Linked DNA regions of Homo sapiens. The protein of the gene in region 3 purifies or fractionates together with the protein of the main gene of each other region. This does not show direct contact. Each region holds a gene or a part of one and is shown on either strand. Other genes may lie near its edges.

The links.
Region 1: the proteins of TRIM37 (region 3) and CELA1 purify together in Homo sapiens (affinity purification with mass spectrometry, with the first as the bait; one large-scale study listed by BioGRID). This does not show direct contact.
Region 2: the proteins of TRIM37 (region 3) and TPM3 purify together in Homo sapiens (affinity purification with mass spectrometry, with the first as the bait; one large-scale study listed by BioGRID). This does not show direct contact.
Region 4: the proteins of TRIM37 (region 3) and DSTN purify together in Homo sapiens (affinity purification with mass spectrometry, with the first as the bait; one large-scale study listed by BioGRID). This does not show direct contact.
Region 5: the proteins of TRIM37 (region 3) and ANXA5 purify together in Homo sapiens (affinity purification with mass spectrometry, with the first as the bait; one large-scale study listed by BioGRID). This does not show direct contact.
Region 6: the proteins of TRIM37 (region 3) and NT5E purify together in Homo sapiens (affinity purification with mass spectrometry, with the first as the bait; one large-scale study listed by BioGRID). This does not show direct contact.
Region 7: the proteins of TRIM37 (region 3) and KRT2 purify together in Homo sapiens (affinity purification with mass spectrometry; 2 studies listed by BioGRID and IntAct, with this or other methods). This does not show direct contact.

Annotation. Positions count from the first base shown.
Region 1 is NC_000012.12:51,343,880-51,347,904, reverse strand, and holds the start of CELA1 (chymotrypsin-like elastase family member 1), read left to right. Parts: upstream 1-1,225; 5' UTR 1,226-1,266; coding exon 1,267-1,282; intron 1,283-2,027; coding exon 2,028-2,110; intron 2,111-4,025. UniProt on the Homo sapiens protein: Serine proteases that hydrolyze many proteins in addition to elastin.
Region 2 is NC_000001.11:154,178,601-154,182,100, forward strand, and holds part of TPM3 (tropomyosin alpha-3 chain), read right to left. Parts: intron 1-3,500. UniProt on the Homo sapiens protein: Binds to actin filaments in muscle and non-muscle cells. Plays a central role, in association with the troponin complex, in the calcium dependent regulation of vertebrate striated muscle contraction.
Region 3 is NC_000017.11:59,026,881-59,030,380, forward strand, and holds part of TRIM37 (E3 ubiquitin-protein ligase TRIM37), read right to left. Parts: intron 1,844-3,500; coding exon 1,535-1,843; intron 1-1,534. UniProt on the Homo sapiens protein: E3 ubiquitin-protein ligase required to prevent centriole reduplication. Probably acts by ubiquitinating positive regulators of centriole reduplication.
Region 4 is NC_000020.11:17,597,575-17,601,074, reverse strand, and holds part of DSTN (destrin), read right to left. Parts: intron 338-3,500; coding exon 30-337; intron 1-29. UniProt on the Homo sapiens protein: Actin-depolymerizing protein. Severs actin filaments (F-actin) and binds to actin monomers (G-actin). Acts in a pH-independent manner.
Region 5 is NC_000004.12:121,683,481-121,686,980, forward strand, and holds part of ANXA5 (annexin A5), read right to left. Parts: intron 2,893-3,500; coding exon 2,808-2,892; intron 1,292-2,807; coding exon 1,197-1,291; intron 1-1,196. UniProt on the Homo sapiens protein: This protein is an anticoagulant protein that acts as an indirect inhibitor of the thromboplastin-specific complex, which is involved in the blood coagulation cascade.
Region 6 is NC_000006.12:85,491,583-85,495,082, reverse strand, and holds part of NT5E (5'-nucleotidase isoform 1 preproprotein), read right to left. Parts: intron 3,107-3,500; coding exon 2,906-3,106; intron 1,243-2,905; coding exon 1,079-1,242; 3' UTR 1-1,078. UniProt on the Homo sapiens protein: Catalyzes the hydrolysis of nucleotide monophosphates, releasing inorganic phosphate and the corresponding nucleoside, with AMP being the preferred substrate. Shows a preference for ribonucleotide monophosphates over their equivalent deoxyribose forms.
Region 7 is NC_000012.12:52,646,635-52,649,211, forward strand, and holds part of KRT2 (keratin, type II cytoskeletal 2 epidermal), read right to left. Parts: intron 2,469-2,577; coding exon 2,373-2,468; intron 1,704-2,372; coding exon 1,539-1,703; intron 1,222-1,538; coding exon 1,096-1,221; intron 327-1,095; coding exon 106-326; intron 1-105.

The DNA.
Region 1 (4,025 bases), on a different chromosome or scaffold from region 3:
GCTGGGACTGCAGAAGCGCACCACCATGCCCAGCTAATTTTTGTATTTTGTTTTTGTTTTTTTTTAGATGGAGTCTCGCTCTGTCGCCCAGGTTGGAGTGCAGTGGCGCGATCTCGGCTCACTGCAAGCTCCGCCTCCCGGGCTCACGCCATTCTCCTGCCTGCGCCTCCCGAGGAGCTGGGACTACAGGCGCCTGCCACCACGCCCAGCTAATTTTTTGTATTTTTTTAGTAGAGACGGGGTTTCACTGTGTTAGCCAGAGTAGTCTCAATCTCCTGACCTCGTGATCCGCCCGCCTCCGACTCCCAAAGTGCTGGGATTACAGGCATGAGCCACCGCGCCCGGCCAATTTTTGTATTTTTAGTAGACGGGGTTTCGCCATGTTGGCCAGGATGGTCTCGATCTCTTGATCTTGTGATCCGCCCGCCTCAGCCTCCCAAAGTGCTGGGATTACAGGCGTAAACCACCGCGCCCGGCCGCAACTCCCTTCTCTCTCCTCTACGAACTGTGATGAACAAAGCCTTTCATCTCCTGCAGGAACCTCGGCTCCTACCCTCGTTCTCCCTCTGCCCTCCACCCTCCATCTACCCTCATAGCCCTCAGACTGTCTTCACATCCCAAGGATCCCCTCCTCTACCCTGCCTCATATTCTCCTCTGGGAGCCCCTTCTTGGCTCTCCATCTGAGAGGGCCCAAGCCTGTTTCTCAGTACTTTCCTCCCCCAGAATTATCTCCACTGCATCTATTTGGCTTTTGTGTCTGCATTTACACCTATGCCTGCATCCTGGGGGCATGTGCCATCTCCCTCTTTGGGCAGAGAGAGTTGCTGTGTCTTCCTTGCCCTTGCTAACCACTCCCCCCTCTTCCACTATCCCCCTGGCCTCCAGCTGCTAGTGCACAGGGCAAGTCTCTGCATTTATGGTGCCACTGAGGACAACGAGAGAGTGATGGATGACAAGGGGTGCTCCCTTAGAGAAAAACCAGCCCTGGTTCTCCATCTTATTTCTGAAAAAGAGTTTGTTGGATGCTTTTCAATTAAAAGCAGATGATTAATTCAGCCCTGGCCTTGTTCTGTCTTTGAATAACAGATACATTAGTTTACTTGAAAAGAAATATTTTCATTTGTATTTCCATGTCACTTGTGATTTTCCCTGCCTTGCACCCTCAGCCCTGCCAGTTGGCAAGAAGACAGTCAGCTTTGCTGCTAAGAGGAGTATAAAGAGGGCTTGGTCCAAGCAAGAAGGCAGTGGTCTACTCCATCGGCAACATGCTGGTCCTTTATGGTAAGTGGATATGGTCCAGTCGCAACCCTGGTCCTTTATGGTAAGTGGATCATGTGGCCTGAGGTCTATAGGGAGGGGGACTTGGGCAGGAAGGTCAGCAAATTTTCCCTAAGTCCAGGCCAGCACCCTGTCCCAGGGCAGGTGGGACGCTCTGCCTGCAGAGCGTCCTTTACTCTCCTGGAGGCCAAGATAGAAAAGGTCAGGGCCACTGGCTATTCAGGCCCCTCTGGGTGGCAGGTCCCTGGGCCACAAAGCAGAGAGAAGCCCCATCTGGTAGTGGGGTGGGTCCCTGGGCTTCCCCACCACCCCCATTGACAGGAGGACTTCCTCAGCAGGTGCCTGGCTGGGGTGTGCACTGCAGGCCCTGAACCCTGGAGAATCTTGCCAAAGCATTAGGGGGCTGGTGGGGGTCAAAGAGTGGGGGGGGGTCTCTTCAGGCCAAAGGGTGATCTTGAGCAAAGAGGAGACCACAAGGAGCCTCTGGGGCCTAGCCTGGTGGTTTGAGAGAGGTCCTTCATAGCATGCCGGAGTTCTGGGAACACCTGGGGGAAACAGAAGGCACCCAGGCACCCCTGTTTTCAAAAGGGGCTCAGAGAACTCACAGCTGGGCCCCTCATTCGTTAGAGAGGAACTGTGAATTTGCAGACAAGGCTAACATTCCTCAAAGCACAATCGCCACCCCCCACCCCTACCCCTGGCTGACCCCATGCTTAGTCATCACTCACTTTTCTTCTGCCCCACAAAGGACACAGCACCCAGGACCTTCCGGAAACCAATGCCCGCGTAGTCGGAGGGACTGAGGCCGGGAGGAATTCCTGGCCCTCTCAGGTGGGTGTTCCTTCCCAGCCCCAGACTTCCACCCAAATAAGAGCTCAGTGCATGACATAAGGTATCATGTGTATTTGTGCATGTCCCTATCAACAAGCAGCTCTCCAATTGTCTAGGTTCTCGATTTTAAAGATGGATGGGATCAGGCTTAGGTGGTTTTCTAAATGCAAAAGGCTTGGAGGAGGGGATTTATACACCAACCACAGTCCCTCTTCAAGGCACACACCCAAACACAAGATACATTTATATTCTCAGCGACAGCACTTGTGCCACGCAAGAAAGACTGGGTGCCAGACAGTCACCTTGGACTCCACATACCTTGAAACTCACACGCACACCACTCCACACTGTGTGTGTCACAATGCTTGCACGCATGTGCGCGCACACACACACACACACACGTACAGCATGCTGCTTAGTTGGCTATTTAGAGTTTCCACTTTGCTAACAGGGCAGCTGGGCCCTGATTTAAGTGATCTAAATATGTAAACCTGGCAAATTAACTGATGAAGATCCACACTTTGAGAAGATATCACTGCAATCAGAGTTTTAGCTTATAAAAGTCTGAGCCCCAGTTTTCAGGAGTAGAGCTATTACATAACATGAGGTGCTAGAAGAAGAGACATGAACTGATAAAAACAAACATCCTATTGGTATTTTTTTTTTTTTGAGATGGAGTTTTGCTCTCATTGCCCAGGCTAGAGTGCAATGGCATGATCTCGGCTCACTGCAAACTCTGCCTCCTGGGTTCAAGCAGTTCTCCTGCGTCAGCCTCCTGAGTAGCTGGGATTACAGGCGCCTGTCACCATGCCCAGCTAATTTTTGTATTTTTAGTAGAGACGGGGTTTCACCATGTTGGCCAGGCTGGTCTCAAACTCCTGACCTCAGGTGATCCACCCGCCTCAGCCTCCCAAAGTGCTGGGATTACAGGCATGAGCCACAGCGCCTGGCCTCCCATTGGTATTTCTAAGTAGTCCCTGAAGTGGGGAGACAGGAGATGTCTTGAAAACACTAAAGGTACAGCTCTGGAGACCTAAGCCTGTTGGGCTTAGGTGATGGAGCAAATCTTTGCCTATAGTTCCTCTTTTTTGGGGGAGGAGAGGGGGCGATGGAGTCTCGCTCTGTCACCAGGCTGCAGTGCAGTGACGCTATCTCAGCTCACTGTAACCTCCACCTCCTGGGTTCAAGCAATTCTCCTGCCTCAGCCTCCTGAGTAGCTGGGACTACAGGTGCATGCCACCACGCCCGACTAATTTTTGCATTTTTAGTAGAGATGGGGTTTCACCATGTTGGCCAGGATGGTCTTGATCTCCTGACCTGGTGATCCACCCGCCTTGGCCTCCCAATGTGCTAGGATCACAGGCGTGAGCCATGGTGCCTGGCCTATAGTTCCTCTTTAAGGGAGAACAGAGGTAGAAGGAGTTCCAAAAAAGGAGTTACAATGGGTTCTAGGTCCATTGCAACAACCTAGAGAGATAATGCCAAATACACTGTGTGCCTTTACTCCTCCATCCATGTACACAGCAAACATCACCAAGCGATGGAGCATCCCTTCCTGCTGGCCCCAGAAGCATCTACACACCCCTTATCAATGCCACACTCCAGGTGGCCACTACCAAGCAATCAGTAGCAATTGGCAGGTCAGATGAAACCTATTTGCCATCTCTAGCCTAGAAAGAGAATGTTTTGAAGGACAGCAGGACTTTAAGGAGGTGACATGTAGTTTGAGGCAAAGTCTTTTATATTTAATTATTTTTGACGTTGTAGAGGCGAGGTCTCACTATGTTGCCCAGGCTGGTCTCCAGCTCCTAGGCTCAACTGATCCTCCTGCCTCAGCCTTCCAAAGTTCTGGGATTACTGGCATGAGCCACTGCAACCGACCTGGGGCAAAACCATTTGAGAAACACCAACCTAT
Region 2 (3,500 bases), on a different chromosome or scaffold from region 3:
CCTGTCCCTTTCAGGTCAAATAATACCAATGGGTACCAAGAGATTGAACAGGCCTACTTTTTGCAGACCAGGCTACCTGTGGCCCTGGGAAACGTTAAGCTCTGCACTTTCCTAATCATCTTAGGTTTTAGCATGCCCATCCAGATGCGGTTTTGGTGTTTCAGCTGACCTATCTCTGCCCAGTGTGGAGGATATACAGTACTCTGTGGTTCTTCCCTTCAAGTAATAATAGGATTCTCCACTGCCCAGGAAGCAAAGATCCTGGGTGAGGGATTGGGGAAAGAGTAGAATGCCCCAGCAACTCAGTCACATTACCAGATGGCTGACAACACCTTCGGCTATCCTCCACTCCAAAGAGATTTCCCAAATATGTCAACCCCTCCAGGCAAGAAACTGACAGTGTGATGGTACTCTCAGGCAGAACAGGGCCAAGGACAGAAGGGGATTAGCCTAAATCTGGCTTTCTGCCACACTGGGGTTTCTCTTATTAGATAAAAGCCACAGATAAAATTCAAATGAAAGAGTATCAGAAAGTTAGGCTTGAGCCCTGTGAGTAAAGGACTATTTGAGTTCACTGTGCTCACAAATGCATTACCCAGGGAGATACCGTGTCCTTGGGGAATTTAAACTTCACCAAAGGGGAGGCAAGTTGGAAGGGAGTAGAGCTATCTGCCCCACAGTAAACAAAGGCGGAGCCTAAGCAGGGGTAAAGGGCTATCTGCCTCTCCCCTGTGAGTGTGTGTTCTAGTACTGGGGAAAGAGAAAGGAAAGCAAAGCAACCAAAGAAAGGTTGCTTAGTCCACCAGGCCCACGAATAGAAGAGAACCACACAACAGTCAAGCATTCTAACCTCTCCAGAGACTAGGAATTTAGGATTAAGGCCAGAATCAAAGCCCACTCCCTCGGTAGTACTCTTAAGGTTTTTGTTATTACTTTTTTTTTTCTTTTTGAGGCAGAGGTAGTGTGCTGACCTTACACTCCCGCAGTTGACCCCTCACTCCCCCAGTGCCGATACTCGCCCAGGCTGGAGTACAGTGGCATGATCCAATCCTGGTTCACTGCCACCTCCGCCTCCAGGGTTGAAGCAATTCTTGTGCCTCAGCCTCCCAAGTAGCTGGGATTACAGGCATGCGCCACCATGCCCAGCTAATTTTTTGTATTTTTAGTAGAGATGGGGTTTCATCAGATCCACAGGTGGACCTCAGATCCACCCGCCTAGGCCTCCCAAAGGGCTGGGATTACAGGTGTGAGCCACCGCACCCAGCCTCTTAAGTTTTTTAGACTAGAAAAAAATTAAAAAGAGAAAAATATCAGGGACAATTAGGAGAGAGTTATTAAAAACAGATAAGGTGAACTGTACATTTATAAATGGTTAAAATGGTAAATTTTACATGTATTTTTATCACCACTACCACAAAAAAAAAGAGATAAGGAAAAAGACTGCATTTAAACATTATGTTGCCATCTGTTTCCATTTAGACAGAAGTAAAAAGGAAATACAGAACTGAAAGTAAATTTGACAAGGTGCTACATTATAAAAGACCAATTTCCAGGCCGAGAGCAGAAAAGAAAGATGGATCCTAGAACACCAGTGTCTCAGTTTTAGACTCATCTAGCTTCCCAACAAGGGTGGCTTGGATGTTCACACAAAGTAACCAGGAAAATAATTAAGTGACAATCCCACTAACAGCATGAGATACCATCAGAGAGTGCAGTTTCCCGCTCCAGAGGAGGGAGGAGTCTGCAAAACCCACATTCCAGAATGCCTTAAGAGGATAACAGGTAGCCCAAGCAACCCCCCTCCCTTCCCACAGGTGTCTCCTCCTCAGTAGGGGTTCAAAGTTCAGCAGAGCAGCAGAAAGTCAAAAGATTAAGCTTCTTCAGGCTGGGGAGTAGAAGAAATGATTTCATCAATATTTAACTATAACTCTACTTCCCCATTCTGAGGACTTCCTCACTAGACCTCAGCTCAATAAGCAAATTTGGCAGGCTCTGAGTGAAAGTAGCTTAAGAAACATCACCCCAGGACAGGCGCAGTGGCTCATGCCTGTAATCTCAGCACTTTGGGAGGCTGAGGCAGGCAGATCACTTGAGGTCAGGAGTTTGAAACCAGCCTGGCCAACATGGTGAAACCCCATCTCTACTAAAAATAAAAAAATAAAATAATAAAAAAAAATCGCCGAGTGTGGTGGTGGATGCCTGTAATCCCAGCCACTCAGGAGGCTAAGGCAGGAGAATCACTTGAGCCTGGGAGGTGGAGGTTGCAGTGAGCAGAGATCGTGCAACTGCATTCCAGGCTGGGCTACAGAGCAAGTCTCCATCTAAAAAAAAAAAGAGGGGGGATGGGAGGCAGGAATCACCCACCTTAGAACTACTCCTAGAATGTCCATATTTAAATACTGAGCCTAAGATTCTGCAGCTCAACACATGGCCAGTTCCTCTGTCTTCCCCTTTAAAGCTATCTGGTCTCCAGAACAAAGGAGATGAGAAAGTGCCACTGGCCATAAAGAGTCACCCAGCCAGTCCATCTCACTTGCACAGATAATAAGAAGTTGTTGGCAAACTGAACAGAGGAAAAAAATCTACCTAGAAAAAGGTGTCTGAGGAAGACAACAAGCTCCCATCCCAGCATCTCCATGACCACTTATAAAAATAAGTGAGTATTCCAACAATCTTTAAGTATTTAAACTGGAGGGCAGCTGTCCCCCAATTACCATCCTTTTCTGAAATCCACCCCTCCCCCTCCCAAAAACATTCTCAGTTATTTCCCAGAGGAGCAGCCAAAAAGAAAAACAAAAACAAAAACTTACCAAGGGAAAGAACAAAGAACAAAGAATAAACCACATGAGTACTTTCACTGGATCTTGAATTTTAGCAACAGTTACTTTACTCTCTCAAGATCCTCCAAAACAAAGCCTCAACTCGTATCAGCTCCATCTATTAGACTGCACCCTAGACCTTGGAAAATCTTATGGCTTACACTAAAACTAATCAGCCACTTTTAAACAGAAAGACGTTTAAAGAAATCACTAGAATAGGCTGGGCACGGTGGATCACACCTGTAATCCCAGCACTTTGGGAGGCAGAGGTGGGTGGATCACCTGAGGTCAGGAGTTCGAGACCAGCCTGGCCAACATGGCGAAACCCCGTCTCTACCAAAAATACAAAAAATTAGCCAGACTTGGTGGCGGGCACCTGTAATCCCAGCTACTCAGGAGGCTGAGGCAGGAGAATCACTTGAACCCGGGAGGCGGAGGTTGCAATGAGCCGAGATCATGCCATTGCACTCCAGCCTGAGCGACAGAGTGAGACTCTGTCTCAAAAAAAAGAAAGGAAGAAAGAAATCACTAGAATCACTGTTCACTCCACCAACATTTTATGTTTCCACTTTCAGTTGAACAAATATTCCACTAGAGTCACCTGGAATTCATTATTGTCTCCACCAAATTGCCCAAGTCAATCAGAAACCTTGAGACTGGCACACCATCTGATTCTCTGCC
Region 3 (3,500 bases):
ATTATTTTTGATTTTTGAGATATTATCCCTTCTAGTTTTTCTCCTACCTTAATGATTGCTCTTTCAATTTCCTTTGCTGGCCTCTCCTATTTATCAGATCTTTAAATGTTTAAGTGCCACAGAGTCAAAAATTTTGCTTCTCCATTGAAACTCCCTCCAAACTTGACCCTATTCAGTCTTCTGGATTTAAATAATATAAAATACTATTGACTCCCAACTGTTTATATCCAGCATTGACCTCTCTCTGAGTTTCAAAGTTGTGTACCATTCACGTGTCTATGACATTTTACTAGGATATCTAGCAGGTGTCTCAAATTAAACATGTTTAAAAAAGAATACCCAACTTTCTGCCCTTACCTCCTCCCAAGCCCCATAACCTGCTTCTTATCTGATTTGCTTCTCAATAAATGATACCACTGCCTATTAAGTTGCTTAGGCCAAAACTTAATCATAATTCTTAGTTTCTTTCTAAATAGAACTTTCCTAAAATTCTATTTAGGCTTTTTCAACTATGGTTCTGAGAAAGAACTCAGCCCTGCTGATCTAAGACTGGATTAACTTCCCTCCTATGCATCTAGAATAGAATAGCACATCCTTAAGAGAACTAAGAAAGATGGGAACCTCAGTCAAGAAAGGCTGCTAGACTGTGAACAAGCCCCTCTATCCATTATTGTAACTCCAGAAAATGCCATCATATTTCACACAAGATAATGTAATAGGCTGTTACTGGTCTCACAATTCCTGTCCTCAACCCTTTTCAGACCCTTCTCCACACAACAAGCAAAGTCATCTTTGTAAAGTGTAAATCAGATTATAAACACCCCTTATTTTTATTCTCTAGAGGCTTCCTCCTTACATCATAATAAAACTCGAACTCCTTTTTGAGGTTTTGCAAGACTCTCCCTGATCTAAATTCTGCCTACCTCTCTCTGACTTCGTCTCCTGCTAGTCTCCTCTCTCTGCTTTCTTTGCCATACTGGTCTTCCTTCAATCCTTCAAATACGCAAAATAAATCCTGTGTCAGTGACTTTGCAGTTTCTGTTCTGTTTACCCAGAACACTGCTTGCCCTAGATCTATAAATAGCTGCCACCTTCCTAAACTTCAGGTCTCAGGTCAAGTGCTGCCTCCTCACAGAGACTTTCTCTGACTACCCCAATAGAACATGTCTCATCTGCTCCTCCCATCCCACTCCTCGGTTGTTTCCTTCACAGCACCTTTTACCCACTGAAATGATCTTTACTTACTTGTCTACACTTTTTAATGTCTGATTCCCACTACTAGAATACAAGATCTATGATGTTAAGAATTTTGTCTTGTTTATTGCCAAATACAGAGTAAGCAATCAAGAAATGTTAGTTCTATTATATAGTAAAAATATACGGAATCAATTTTGGATGAAGAAAAAAGTCACATGTAATTTGTAGTCTTAACTCACTGGAAGAGTGGTATTTAAATATTATTCTTTTGAAAAAACCAGTCATCTAGTTTCCCAAATAACGTGTGGAGAAATGACACTGGGAACATATTACTTACAGTTTCGTATGTAACAATTGGCAACTGATGACTTTGCCAGGAGTTCCATTCCCAAATCCTGCAATCTGCCAGAGTTTTCAGTTCCACATGCAGCCAGAGCTGCCTGGTCAGCAGAAAAAAGGCTTGTCTGCATGTCTCCAGAAGCAGCACTGCTGCTTTTTATTTCTGAAAGTGTATTCTTTACATCAGTTTTCATACATCGAACTTCGGCCATTTGAGTTTTGAGTCTTTTTAGCATCTTTAAATCAGAGGGCACTCGCCACATTGCCTGTTGCTTCCTTTGGTCTTTATCTTTTCGAGAATATGATGCTTCAGAGAAATTGACAAGTCATGTTAACATAAACGTTAATATTAATGAAATCATTTGTACCATGAATATATGCAAATTTGATGTGTAAAATAAGCTAGCGTGCTTTACGTGGTATCAACAATAAAACATGCACTAAATTCCATTAATGAAAATAAAGATAAAGAATCCTACCTTATTCACACCTTCAGAGTTAGAATCTGAGTCACATCATACTCAAGTTCGAATTACACATTTAATTCTAAAAGTTTAAAAGCTGCCCTACTGCCTTGTGCTTTCTTCTTTAAACTTCTCCACTTTTCTGAAACTTTCTACAGAGCTTTTATTATGTTTATAATTGAAAAAAAAGACAAAGAAAAATCTAGAAACCAAATACTTTGTCAAATCTGCCATATATAACATTATATTAAAAATACATATTTCTGGCCAGGTGCAGTGGCTTATGCCTGTAATCCCAGCACTTCAGGAGGCTGAGGTGAGAGAATCGCTTGAGGCCAGAAGTTCAAGATCAGCCAGGGGAGCATAGTGACACCCTATCTGTACAAAAAAAAATTTTTTTATTAGAACTTCCATTTCTGATAATTTTCTCAGAACTGTCAGCTTTCTGAAATACGGTTTGAATCTAACCACTTCTAAAATAAAACAATAGCTCTCCATGCCTAGTATGAATAAATTCCTCCGGCTAGCATGCAAGTCCTTTCATAGAATGGACCCAACATGACTCTAGTTCTACTTACCACTATATGTACCTTAAAATCTGGTTCAACTAGATTACCTGATACCTTTTACAGTACTCCTTTACATGGTTAAGAACATGAAGTTAATCTGACAAATGTTCACTAAATATGTGTTAAATAAATACACAGAAAAAAATAAACATCAAAGCCCAAGCAGGCCACGTGCAGTGGCTCACGCCTATAATCCCAGCACACTTTGGGAGGCCGAGGCAGGTGGATCACTTGAGCTCAGGAGTTTTGAGACAAACCTGGCCAACATGGTGAAACCTGTCTCTACAAAAAATTGTAGAGCACTCCAGCCTGGGCAACAGAGTGAGACTCTGTCTCAAAAACAAACAAACAATCAATCAAACAAAAAATGACCCAAGCAAGCCTTTTCAATAAAAAGAAAGTCATATATTTCTGCACACTAGCTTTTATTAACATCCCTTCACTGAAAGGTATTTTCATTTGGCTTCCATGAGTATTTTTTCTCCTTTCTAAAAGCTCTTTATCTGGCTCATCTTCCTGACACTCAGTAAAAACAGATATTCATCAGGATTATGTTCCTGGCTCTCTTCTTTTAAAATATTCTTAAAACTCCTTTGCAATCTCACACCCTTGGTTTTAATTATCCAGTATCACCTCCAGAAAAATAACTGTCTGTATTCCAGTTCATTTTTTTTTTTCATGGAGTTTCACTCGTTGCCCAGGCTGGAGTGCAATGGCACGATCTCGGCTCACTGCAACCTCCGACTCCCAGGTTTAAGCCATTCTCCTGCCTCAGCTTCCCAGGTAGCTGGGATTACAGGCACCTGCCACAATGGCCGGCTAATTTTTTGTATTTTTAGTAGAGACAGGGTTTCACCATGTTGGCTAGGCTGGTCTCGAACTCCTGACCTCAGGTGATCCACCCGCCTCAGCCTCCCCAAGTGTTGAGATT
Region 4 (3,500 bases), on a different chromosome or scaffold from region 3:
CAGAGGCTCAATATTTCTAACATGCTTACCACAAAAAAAACATCAACTCTTCTTTTCTGGATTCTTTTGTTTCAAAGCTTGCATCATACAAAGCATAGCGACAATCTTTTTCAGGAAGCATTCCCACAAAATGCTTGAAAGGATCAGTTATGGTTACACCAACATCTCCAACCAAGATCTCTTTGCCTTCTTCTACAATGATGCACTTTTTGTCTGCACTGAGACAAAAAATGACAGCCTTCTTTCTTTTCTTGATTTCTTCTGGTGTGGAGCATTTACGAACTTTCATGTCATAAAAAATGCGACATACTTCATCAGCTACTTGCACTCCTGAGGCCTATGATGAGAAAATACATGAGAAAAAGACTTACAATTTTTATTGTGCCAAACATAAAATAATAAATTCTGCTTATAGATTGGCATATATTTAACATTTTAAAGGTATATCATCTAATTAAAAAACTAGAAATTTGAGCTGTAATCACTACTAATTTTAGACATCAAACTTTTTAAAAGATCACAAATATATGCCATTCCTCACTACTGCACAGGGGTAAGGAAACATTCAACTATAGCAGCCTCTCCTACCCTAGAACCTTAAAAGAAGTGTTTCCTAAGGTGCTGGGTTATTTTCTTCTTATACAGGTTGCTTAGAGCCTTGACTACAGGCAGATCATCTTCCCAGTGTGTATATTCATGATACCTAAAATTCCTTTTGTAATACACAGTAGCTGGTCATAGCTGCTAGACTGGGAAATTTCCATCCCTACAGCATCTCTTTCTCTAATAAAAAAAAAGATTTATTAAGAGGTCTTTGCTCTACTCACATTTCAAAATTATGTGATCAATATTCAGTATTAGTCACACTTGCCATTAAAATTTCACTTAAAAATTCCAAATTTTAAACTAAGATTAGAATAAATAAGAAAATGTCTACTGCTATAATAAAGAGGGTAGCTTAATTAGGGATTATACTGACCAGAAAAATTACCTTTCGCTATGTTATACTTGCTATTCTGGGCTGAAGGACAGTTAAACAAAATCTTGATAGCACAAGATCTTAAACCAGTTTTTAATTTTTTCATCTTGAGGAATGTGCTATTTACATTAACTTTATTATATCCATAATTGTTAATGCCTCATTAACTACTTTGTTTTGCATGTTAGCTTTTCTAAAGCAAGAATTATAAAGCCCAACAAGAGATGCCCAGGAGGCTCTGCCAGTCATGGTTGAACAGCACTGGAGGATGATCAGACTAAGGGAAGAATGTAGACAATCAAATGTGTGATTGCAGGAGATGTGGCTGTAGACAAAGCCTGCCTCCCCATCAGTTATACAACAAATGCCTTTCCTAAGGAGTATATGCCCAATGTCTTTGACAACTACAGCACCCAGACATCTGTGGATGGCCAAATCATCAGCCTGAACCTGTGGGACACCACTGGCCAAGAGGAGGAATATGACCAACTGCGACTGTTCTCCTATCCCCAAGACCAATATCTCTGTCATTTGTTTTTCCATTGGCAACTCATCCTCTTAGGCCAATGTGAGGCATAAGTGGTACCCAGAGGTCTCCCATCATTGCCTCAATGTATCTGTTATGCTGGTAGGCACCAAAAGGGACCTGTGGAGTGACCATGAGACAGTGAAGAAGCTGAAGGAGCAGAGCCAAGTGCCAATGACTCCTCAGCAAGGCCCTTCCCTGGCTAAGCAGGTGGGAGCTGTGAAGTATCTGGAATGTTCAGCCATGATGCAGGATGGGGTGCATGAGAGATGGGGTCTCGTTATGTTGCCCAGGCTGCAGCCTAGTGGCTATTAACAGGAATGATCATAGCACACTACAGCCTTGAACTCCTAAAATTGGGCAGTCCTCCTGCCTTGGCCTCCCAGATAGCCAGGGCTGCAGGTGCATGACAAAGCGGCTGGTTACTTCATTCTTTTTACTGTTGAATAATGTTCCATTGTTTGGATATCCCACATTTTCCTTATCTATTCATCAGTTGATAGACATTTGGGTTGTTTCCACTTTTTGACTATTAACACTGCTATAAACACTCGTGTACAAGGTTTTGTGTGGGCATGTTTTTAATTCTCTTGGGTAGAAAACTAGGAGTGGAATTGTTGGGTCATATGGTCAATTTATGTAAAACCATGCTTTGAGTCAAGAATGGTATCTTTAGGCTGGGTAGTAGCTATGCCTGTAGTCTCAGCACTTTAGAGGGAGAGGGCAGGAAGATCACTTGAGTTCAGGCGTTTGAGACCAGTGTGGGCAACATAGGGAGACCGTGCCTCTAAAATTTTTTTAATAAAAAGGGAAAAATGAATCATAAGCAATAGAATTTAAATACTAAACAATGGAAAAATATTAATGATACCCAAATGTCAAATCATTTAAGAAATAAAAATGCATATAAGATGAAGATAACCAACAGAATGAGAGAAAACATCCAAAAATCCTACAAGGAACTTGTCAGAATAAAGAACCCTTACAACTCAATTATAAAAAAAGGCAAATACTTCAATTAAAAAACAGTTTTAAAGGATTTAAATAGACAGTTCTCCAAAGATGTATAAATGGTTAATAAGGACGTGGAAAAAATGCTCAACATCAATAGTGATTAGGGAAAAGCAAATCAAAACCATAATGAGATACCTCTTCACTTCAAAACCATAATGAGTCACCCACTAGGAGGGCTAAAATAAAAAAGATGGACAATAACAAATGTTTGTGGGGCCATGGAGAACTTGGAACCCTGATATGCTACTGTAGAACTGTAAAAGGGTACAGCTGCTTTGGCAAACAGTTTGGCAGTTCCTCAAAAAGTTAAACATAAAGTTAACACCTGACCTAGGAATTCCACTCTTAGGTATATATACTCAAGAGAAATGAAAATGTGTCCATACCAACACCTGTACACAAATGTTCATAGTAACATTATTCAAAATAGACCAAAAGTGAAAACAATCCTAAAGTCCATTTAGTGATGAATAGATTTTTAAGATGTAGTATATCCACACAATGGAATATTTCTTGGCCATTAAAAAAATGAGGTACTGATACATGCTACAAGGATGAACCTTGACAAACACTGTGCTAAGTGAAAGAAGCCAGACAGAAAAGGGCACCTATTGCATGATTCTATTTATATGCAATGTTCAAATTGGGTAAAATCAACAGACAGTAGGTAGATTAGTGGTTTCCAGAGGTTGAGAAAAAAGGGGAATGGGGAGTGACTGCTAATGAGTATGGGTTCCTTTCTGAAGTAATGAAAATGTTCTGGAAGTTGACAGGAGTGATGCATACACAACTGTGAATATACTGAAAAACCACTGAATTGAACTGTACTTTGTGGTATGTGAATTATACCTCAATAAAGTTATTACAACAAATACCATGTGTTCGCACTTAGGAACTAAATAATGTGTACACCTGGACACAGTGTGAAATAAAAGACAATGGAGAGCCAGGGGAGGATGAGGAATTAATTAATGGGTAGAA
Region 5 (3,500 bases), on a different chromosome or scaffold from region 3:
ACCCACAGAAAATACAAATTTGTTAACCAGCAGAAATTGTAATAAGATTCTTCTTAAATATGAATGACAGTCCTTTGCTCTAATGAATTCTTTATGTTGCTGTCTCCAAGTAGAAGGCCCATGAGCTAAACAAAACCCTATAACCTTGAATAACATACTTTTAACCTGTGACCAAAATCTTAAACTAAAGCAAACCCACTTATACGTCAAGATATTTGTTTCTAAAAGATGTTTTTCTTAACTTGAAAAAAAAGAATACCTTTAAAAGTAGTCTAAAACTATTTTATAAAAATACTATTCTGAGAAACATATCTTCTTTGTAATTTCAAAAAATAATCATATAATGAAATTTACAAAGGACAACATTTAGTCTCTCATACCCAAACGTAATAATTTTTTCTTTTCTCTCAATATGTAATAACATTCAAACACATAATAGATTATAGTCATTGTTATGACTCCTGACCACTGGGAGATATCTGTTCCTATGGGGAAATTGTGTATGTAATTATGAAAAAATTATGTAATTGTGAAAAAAAAAACACAGTATTTCCTACCTATAAGTTTCAGCATACCACACAACTAAAAATGGTGTTTAGAATACTTTCTTTTTTGCTTTGCACTTGTTTCCTTAGTTAAGTGACATACGTTTTCAGAATAACAAGACTACATTTAAGTTTTCCATGCATGCACTAATTCATTTAAATTTAAATAATTCAAATAATTCATTTAAATAATTCAAATAAATTTTTTTGAATTATTAATCAAATAAAAGCATTTAAATCAACTAATTAAAAACCCATTAGTTAAAATCATGACAAAAGGAACCAAGACTGTGACTGTGTTAAAACAAAACATATTTTAATACAGGCTTACACCTAGAAAATGGATAGTAAGACATCCATGTGAATGCTGAGTGGGAAACACAGAGGAAAAGAAGAGAGACAGTTCTCACTACAGGATCTTTTGGCACCTCTACAGCATTAGGCAAGGAAAAACAATTATGTGAGGATAAGCTGGGTGAGCACTGTATCCTAAGAGCTGATAATTTAGAGGAGAGTGGAAAAGAAACAGAAGTAGGGAAGTCGGAATCACAAAATAAATGATGCTTACAAAAGAATATCAGTATATTCCAAACTAGTCTTATAACTGATAGCTGTTCTCCCATTCTCTCTTGGGATGAAGTGTGGTCTTACCCTGCCAAACAGAGTCTTAAAAGCTGCAGAGATTTCCTGGCGCTGAGCATTACTTCGGGATGTCAACAGAGTCAGGATGCTCTCCTCATCTGTGCCTGCAATTTATGGTTAACAATTACATTTTGGCTCCTACATGCATACTCTCCCAACGATCTTGGCAACTCGCTTCCCAGTCACCTTATTTCCTTGCCTCTCCCTATGCGAATATAAAATATATTTTATGGCCGGCGCAGTGGCTCACATCTGTAATCCTAGCTCTTTGGGAGGCCAAGATGGGAGGATTGCTTGAGGCCAGGAGTTCAAGACCTGCCTGGTCAACATAGTGAGACCCCCATCTCTTAGAAAAAAAAAAAATATGTATATATATATATATATACACACACACATATATATATACACACACACACACACAGACGCAAATACACACATATATATAAATGTTTTATTAAACAGTTTATTAAAAATTTACAATATATAAAATGTTACGTTTCCAATATATTCTACCCCCCATTCCCAACCTATTGTGAAGTAGATGGAAAAATACTTCTGCCTTTTAAAAAACTTAGGGCACCTAGTTTTTTAAAAACACACAAATAAGTATGAGCTAAGGCAAAATGTGACAAGTGCCTCAGGAGAGATCTAGGTGTTAAATGGGGCTCAAAGAAGGGTCTCCTAGCTGATAGGAGGTGGAAGGGAATCTTGGAGAATGATTCATGGAGAAGGTGACACCCACAAGTATTGAAGGATGGAAGGATTGTGAAAGGCAGTGACGAAAGGAAGGACAGCGTTTAGAATGAGAGAAAAGCTCAGCAGTGGGGAAATACAGGGCTTTCATAAACAGCAGATAAGCCAGGATGGTTGGGTCTGAGAACACATTAAACAGTAATGGGAGATGAGTCTGAAAAGGTGGGCTGGATACAATGGAAGGACTTACAGGGCCAGAAAGCACATGAACAGTAGTACAAAAGGAGCCTGAGCACAGGAGATCAGTGACACATGGAAATCCTTGAGATGAGAGGTTTTTAAATGACTAGAAAAGAGGCTGGGGAAAGAGAAGAGTCTAGCAGAATGAGAATGGGATATCTGATTGGGAACAGAGCTGCACAGCTGCCCACCTGCAGGGATGGCTGCCTTATCGACTCGGGCCTCTACCACACAGGTGAGGGTGACAAGCTCAAAAGCACAGAGGCTGAATTTAACTGCCTGTTCAGTTCTAGAGACTGAATATTAGGGATGGTTTATAGCAAGCTTGTCCAACCCATGGCCTGCAAGCCACATGTGGCCCAGGACAGCTCTGAATGCAGCCTAACACAAACTCATAAACTTTCTGAAAACATTATGAAATTTTTTTGCTTTTTTTTTTTTTTTAGCTCATCAGCTATCATTATTGTTAGTGTATTTTATGTGTGGCCCAAGATAATTCTTCCAATGTGGCCCAGAGAAGCCAAAAGACTGGACACTCTGGTTTATAGTATTATTTTGTTATCTTAACATATCTCTTCTCCTACAGATTTCAGATCAAAATATTCTAAAATTATTCTTACTGTAATTAATGACTTGTTTGGAAAAACAAATATCACATTTGCTTTAGAAAGAGGAAGCTAAATTTACCCAAGCCTTTCATAGCCTTCCGAAGAGTTTCTGCATCAGCCCGCTCATCAAATCCAGGGAAGTCAGTCACAGTGCCTCTGAGAACCTAATTCACGAAACACAGTGGTATTATTCATATCATGACTAATATGACAAAGTAAATAACACAAACAGGAAGCCGCTTGCTATATATCATATTCAGTCATTAAATAAATTTACCATTTGATAAGATTTGTGACCCCTTTTGAACTGGGAAGGGAACCATTTACAATGGGAATTGGCATGGCCGATTCAGCACAGAAGCTATCCTGATCACCTGTAATACCATCAGTGGGAAGGCTGGCTCCCTCTTCTCTGTGACGAAACCCCACCAACACCTCCTGGTTCACAGAGGGCACATCTTTGCAGGTTCCCTTCCCATTAAGTCTCACACCATTTTGATCTACAAGCATACTGAGCCCGCACTAAATCTTAATACCCTATCCTGAGTACTCAATTTTAAGCAGTGCTCTTGTTACGTGCCTTTTGATCTAAGTCCTGTTTCTGTATACATACTTAGGGACTTTACGATAACCCAGCAAAGCCTGAAATGATCGTTCACGTGCCAGAGGAATACAAATCTTTGAATTTAGAACTTTATAAAGGTGTATTGGAAGACATTCTTCATAAAGCTTCCTGTTACACATTACTTTATCATATATATACACTGCTTTT
Region 6 (3,500 bases), on a different chromosome or scaffold from region 3:
AATGAATTCAGTGCTAGCCTCTTGCTGGAGAGGGACAAGTGCAGGTTTAGAATTACAGCTTATGTTAGAAGGTTCTCTTCTCATGATACCTTCATGTTAGAAGAAAGAGGACAGAGGCAGAGCTGATGGAATCTCATAAAATAACAGCTAATGCCGTGTGTCAGGCACTATGCTTAACAAGTATCTGTTTAACATGTGTAAATGCTCTTTAGCTCTTGCTTTTCTATAATATAAAACAGTCCTGGAGTCCTGTTCTTCCCCTTCCTTTCTCTCGTGTCCTTTGACTGTCTTTTGCAGCCTCTGGCCTTTCTCATTATCTACTACAGCTTGCTACCTGACTCATCAAAGGCACATGGGTGTTGCAAGAGAGGATGGTATCCTGTGTTTATACCATTAAACTTGCTATTATAACAGGAGCTATAAAGTGAAAAAATAGAGACAAGAAATAAAGCAGAGATTTGTCATCCATGAGCTTGGGGCTATTGATAATTATGAAGAGAGGAGATATTAAGTATTCTGAACAGTAACTTGATATAGTTGAGAATGCTGGACTTGAGTTCAAAAGACCTAGGTCTAGGTCTTGGATCTGTCAGCATTAGCTGTATGGTCAAGTCAACCCTTTTTGAGCTTCAGTTTTTTCATCTGACAGGTGGGAAAAACATCTCTCTTTCCTACCAAAAATAAGTTGTGGATATCAAATGAGACAGTGTGCTTAAAACTTCCTTGTGAATGATAAAATTTTATGTAAACATAAGCTGTTTGATGGATTAGAAATGGATATGAAGAAGAAAAATATGGTTTAAAATTGTTAGTAAAATTTCATTAAAATTTGGACACGTAAACTTAACATAGTTGGCTTTCTCCTTATAGGGCCCTATGTTAATTTTTTTTCTAACTCACTAGGTTGCTGACCCTGAGTAATCATGTCTGTCTCTTCATTTTATAATGCTCTAACCTTCAGCTTCTAGGAGCCTGTAAAGATGGTTTTTGCTGTCACAAAGCCAGGTCCTAAAAGGCAGATTTGAATCTCACTTGAAAAAATGCAGTTTCACACATTAAAGGCAAGGAGAATTTTTGGCTATTGGTATAAAACAAAGATCACTGCCCAAAGTGAAAGAAATATTAAAGAAAAGCTTCCATGGCAGTGACTTCCTGTGGAAAACTTGATCCGACCTTCAACTGCTGGATAAATTACTTTCATTTTGGAGATATATGTAGAAACCACGTTGATATCTTGGTCACCTAGAAAAACATATACATTATTTTAACTACAGAAAAGGTAATTATCAATCAACAGTAAGGTAGTCCTTTGTAATTATAAAAGGGAAGCAATTTCATAAGCAGGGGTAAAGTGTCACAGAAGACAAGAACGCTAGTGATCATAAGTACAAAGAATTTGATTGCTTTTTCATGCTCCAGATGTAAAATGTGTCTGTTGTTCAATATTGGGTAATTGGGGGAAGTAGAGTTGCCTCAGCTCTGTGATGACTCTAGAAAGAGGTCATTGACATCATAGCCTTTGAACCACTCCAGAACAAGGGCATTAGGGAACTGGGTCAAGAGCAATTAGTTGAGAGATAAAACTGGCTTCCTTTTGTTTGCCTGCCCAATAATTATTTTCATGTAATTGATGATGGGACTTGGGGGATTTCCTTTACCAAAGAGAGGAGAGGATAAATGCTAATTGCCTATAGCTACAACAAACCCATGTTTGTTGGGAACCCATGTTCTGTTGGGAACCCAACAGAATTTTATTTTAAAAATATCACTCCAGTACTTAAGAACCCTTCTCTCTTCAGTGGTTTTCACCTCTGGGTGTACACTAGAATCACTGAAAAAGAGTTTAGCCCCAATCCAGTTAACTTAGAATCTCTTAAGAGCTGCGGCCGAGCCATTGGTATTTAATTTAAAATGCTCCTGAAGTGATTCTAATGTATAACCAGTGTTGAGAACGCTTAGGTCCAGGGCTTCCTTAGCCTTCTGCATGAGCTCCTCTCTCTAACATCCTTCAGTCTAGGCTTGAGTGGTGGACAGCTGATGGCTATCAGCCTCTTTGTCTCATGGGGCTTTTACGCCTGCCCTTCCATCTTCTGTCACGGAAGGGACAGAAGAAGCCAGCACCTTTCCTCCCAGGAAGGGCTGCCTCCTTTGGTCTGGTCCTGCCCTCCACGCTCCTTGGAATAAGTAGCTAAAATGACAGGTCCAGCATGATAAGACTGAGGAAGATCCTGGTGGAACTACCCAGAGATGCCAAGAAGCTGCTTGTGTGTCTTGTAAGCATGCTGGTCTCTGCCCTAGGAAGAGGAAGGGGAAGTGTGTCCTATGTCAGTGGTCTGTATGCACATAATGTGACTCTCAACAGAATTTCTAAAAGTGAGGCTGGCATATAATGTCCCTCAATGCTGCCAGAAGTACCAACTGACATCAAGTATGGTTATTCCTATGATTTGTACCACCAACCCACTGTGCTGAAAGGGCGGCGCTCACCCCATCCACTTCTACCTGACTGATTCACACAGAAACTTCTTCAAGAAAGAAAATTTAAATGATTTAATGTGATGGTTTTCCATATCCTAAAATTCCAGAGGTGTGATATTTCTGTTAATGCAAAACTCACTTATATTTCACAATTTAAATAGCTGCTTAGATGTAGTTAAAAGAATTTTAAAACATTTTTGATTTACAAATGTTTTGTCTCTGGGGTTGGATGAAGGCATGTGTGTGCTCGGGGATTGACAGGGTACATATTCCTCTCTGCTGTGCTGTGCTGCTGCTTTCCAACAAGCAAAGCAGGAGGGAGTCAGCAATACAGGGAGTCACTTTGCCCTCCTGGCACCACTAGTAGCTCCCCTTCTTGGCCCAATTTTGTTGTTCTTTAGAGAAAGGAAGAGACAGTCATGCTTACCAGAGTCATGTCTTAATAATTCATCTTTTATCATCTGGAACCCATCTCCACCATTGGCCAGGAAGTTTGGGAGGATCACCTTATATACCTCGTCCATTTTGAGAGGGTCATAACTGGGCACTCGACACTTGGTGCAAAGAACATCTAATTTGACTACTCTGTCTCCAGGTTTTCGGGAAAGATCATACACCACATGGATTCCTAGAAAAGAAATGAATCTGTTTTCACCAGATCCAAAGGGAGATTTCTGTTTCCTAAGGAATTTTGGCCAAACTCTACAATTGGGGCATGGGGCTGTGGTTTTTCCTTTGGTTTAAACCTGAGTGAAATTTTGTCAAGAGAATTGTGACATTGCAGCCACCCTTTATCCTTGAGTCCTTACAGGACATATGAGAACCACTGGAAGGAAAACCAGCTCTGGACCAGAATAGGCAAAGGGTGACTCTACATGGACAAAACCACATCTTTTTCTGTTTTTCCCTTAAAATGCTGAATTGGTCTACTAAATTGATTCAATGGCCTTAGAAAGTGAGAAACAGATCAGAGGCAGAGAGCATTTTACAATTTTGAAGACCATTAAATGGTAATCATTTGG
Region 7 (2,577 bases), on a different chromosome or scaffold from region 3:
GGGCCTGCCCCATTCTCTGCTTTCCCTGTCTTTGCCTCCAGCCCTGGCTCTGGGAGAGATGAGAGGAAGGGCCAGGGTCCCCTTCTCCCTTCCCAGTGCCCTCACCTGCACTCCTCGCCCTCCAGCAGTTTGCGGTAGGTGGCGATCTCCACATCTAGGGCCAGCTTCACGTTCATCAGCTCCTGGTAGTCACGCAGCAGCCGCGCCAAGTCCTCCTTGGCCTGCTGCAGGGCCTCCTCCAGGTCATTCAACTTGTTCCTGGCATCCTTGAGGGCATGCTCCCCACGCTGCTCGGCATCTGCGATGGCATCTTGCACATTCTTACACTATGACAGAAGGACAGAGAATGGATTCTGCCTGACGGAGGCGGACAGAGAGCAGAGGTGTTCGAAGTGCAGGAAGCCAGAACCACTGGCCCTGGGAGTGTTAGGTCCCCTCTGGAGTTTAGTCGCAAACAACTGTGCTAAGACTTGCCGCTGTCTCTGGCACATCTTCTTCCCATGTCACCGTTGATGACACCCTTTGGCTTTCCCCATAGTGCCCTTTGATCCTCACATCACAGGGCCTGAATCATGATCCCATTTTACAGATGGAAATGAAAACATTTGAAATGGTCTGCTTGGCAAAGCTTCTGCTGCTGATGGAATCCACTCTCTGCCTCTACCTTTTCTATTCCAAAGCTAACGTCCAGCCCCAGGCCAGCTGCCCTCAATACTCACTGCCCCTCTATGAAACCAGTCGGCTGGTGCTCAGGGCCTGTGCTGAGCACAAACGGGAAGCTCCATCGGCAATCTGCAGCAAATCAATCAAACTAACGTTTGCTCTATTTGTTATGACTCCCTTTTCCTCATATAAACAAGTGAGCACAATTCTTTCCCTTCGATAATCCTTACTTTGGAATGTCTATTAGAGCACTCTAAGAATTGTTATAATAAGCCATAAATTATGTTAAGCTGGGGAATTTGGGATCGATACATGCTAGAGTGCAATATCTCAGTGTCTCTCATCTCTCACATGCACACTCACACACAACCACACTCTCACGCACACCCAGAGACAACCTCCCGCCCCTCGCTGGACAGGGCTGGGCCTCACCTGCTTCTTCACATGTGCGATCTCCCCCTGCAGCCTCTGGATCACGCGGTTCAGCTCGCTGATCTCTATCTTGATCTCTTTCAGGCTGTCTCCATGTCTCCCGACAGTCACCTGGAGCTCCTCATACTGATATGGGGAGAAGAGGACAGTTTGCAAGGAAGTTCCAGCCTGGCTCACATTCCAGACTGACTGGAGTGAAGGAGAGCTGGTTACTGGTCCAGGGAGGGTCAACCCAGCTAAATGTCATGGCTGCATTCATGAGAGGTAGGGACTGTCTCACATGCCCAAAAGGACTTGGTGCCATTCTCAACATCCTTTCTTGGGAATGGTGCCCAACTACCATTAAACAAAAAACCAATAACCTTACTGTACACTTTCCAGCTGGGGGTGCAACCCAGCTCATGGCAGGGAGCTGTGGCTCTTCCTACATTCCCTCTACTTGCCTTGCTGTGGTACAGGGCCTCCGCTTCTTCCTTGCTCCTCTGGGCGATCTCCTCATACTGGGCCTTGACCTCGGCGATGATGCTATCCAAGTCCAGGTTGCGGCTGTTGTCCATGGAGAGGATGACGTTGGTGTCAGTGACACTCTGATGTATCTGGGATATCTCCTACAACACACAGGAAGGTCTGGTCATGACATCCTGCCATAGCTACAGGCAGACAGGAGGCCTCTGTCTCCCAGCATAAGGGAAACGCAGACCCTCAGACTAAGCATACACTAGGTGGGATGAAAATCATGTAACCGTCTACTCCTGGGCCTCTCCCAAGGTTGTCCTGAGAATTGTAGTGAGAGGCACCTGTATTTCTGAGCCTCCTAGTTAACATTCAGCACTTAAGCCAGTTATGGTAAGTGCCCCCAGACAGAAGCTTGTCCATGGCAAATACCTTAAATGGACTTCCTGTTTCAGAAATCATCTGTGCACCCTTGGGTTGGGGAGGGGGATAGGAGACAAATGCATTTTGACCTCTGAAGTACAGTAGGCACAGGAATGGGCACAGGGCTTGTCTCTTCCCCAGGGGAAATGGACATCTGGGGAATGGAGGGAGGGGAAGCTGTCCTGGTGTTTCCTGAACCTTATTCCCATAACATCGGAGGAGAAAATTCCTCACCCACAAGACCTATGCTATGAAAGCCCCCCCAGTGGCCTGGAATGATGGCAGATTGAAGTCAGCTGGTCCATAAACCCCACTTCTGCCACTTTTTCACCAAGCAGAAAGGACTTTCATTTGGTGAGAAGGGTGGGAAGTAAGGGACTGTCCCGGAGCAGCCTCCTTACCGCATCATAGAGAACTTTCAGAAACTCAATTTCCTGGTTCAGCAGGTCCACCTTGGACTGCAACTCCACCTTTATCATGTAGGCATTGTCCACGTCCTGCAAGAAAGGTTGAGGCCTCTGGTGTATGGTTCCCTGTACAGGCCTCTTCCTCTCTCTGCCACTCCCCTCTACTCAGTCCCTGCTGGCTCCTCTCTAAAATCCCAGG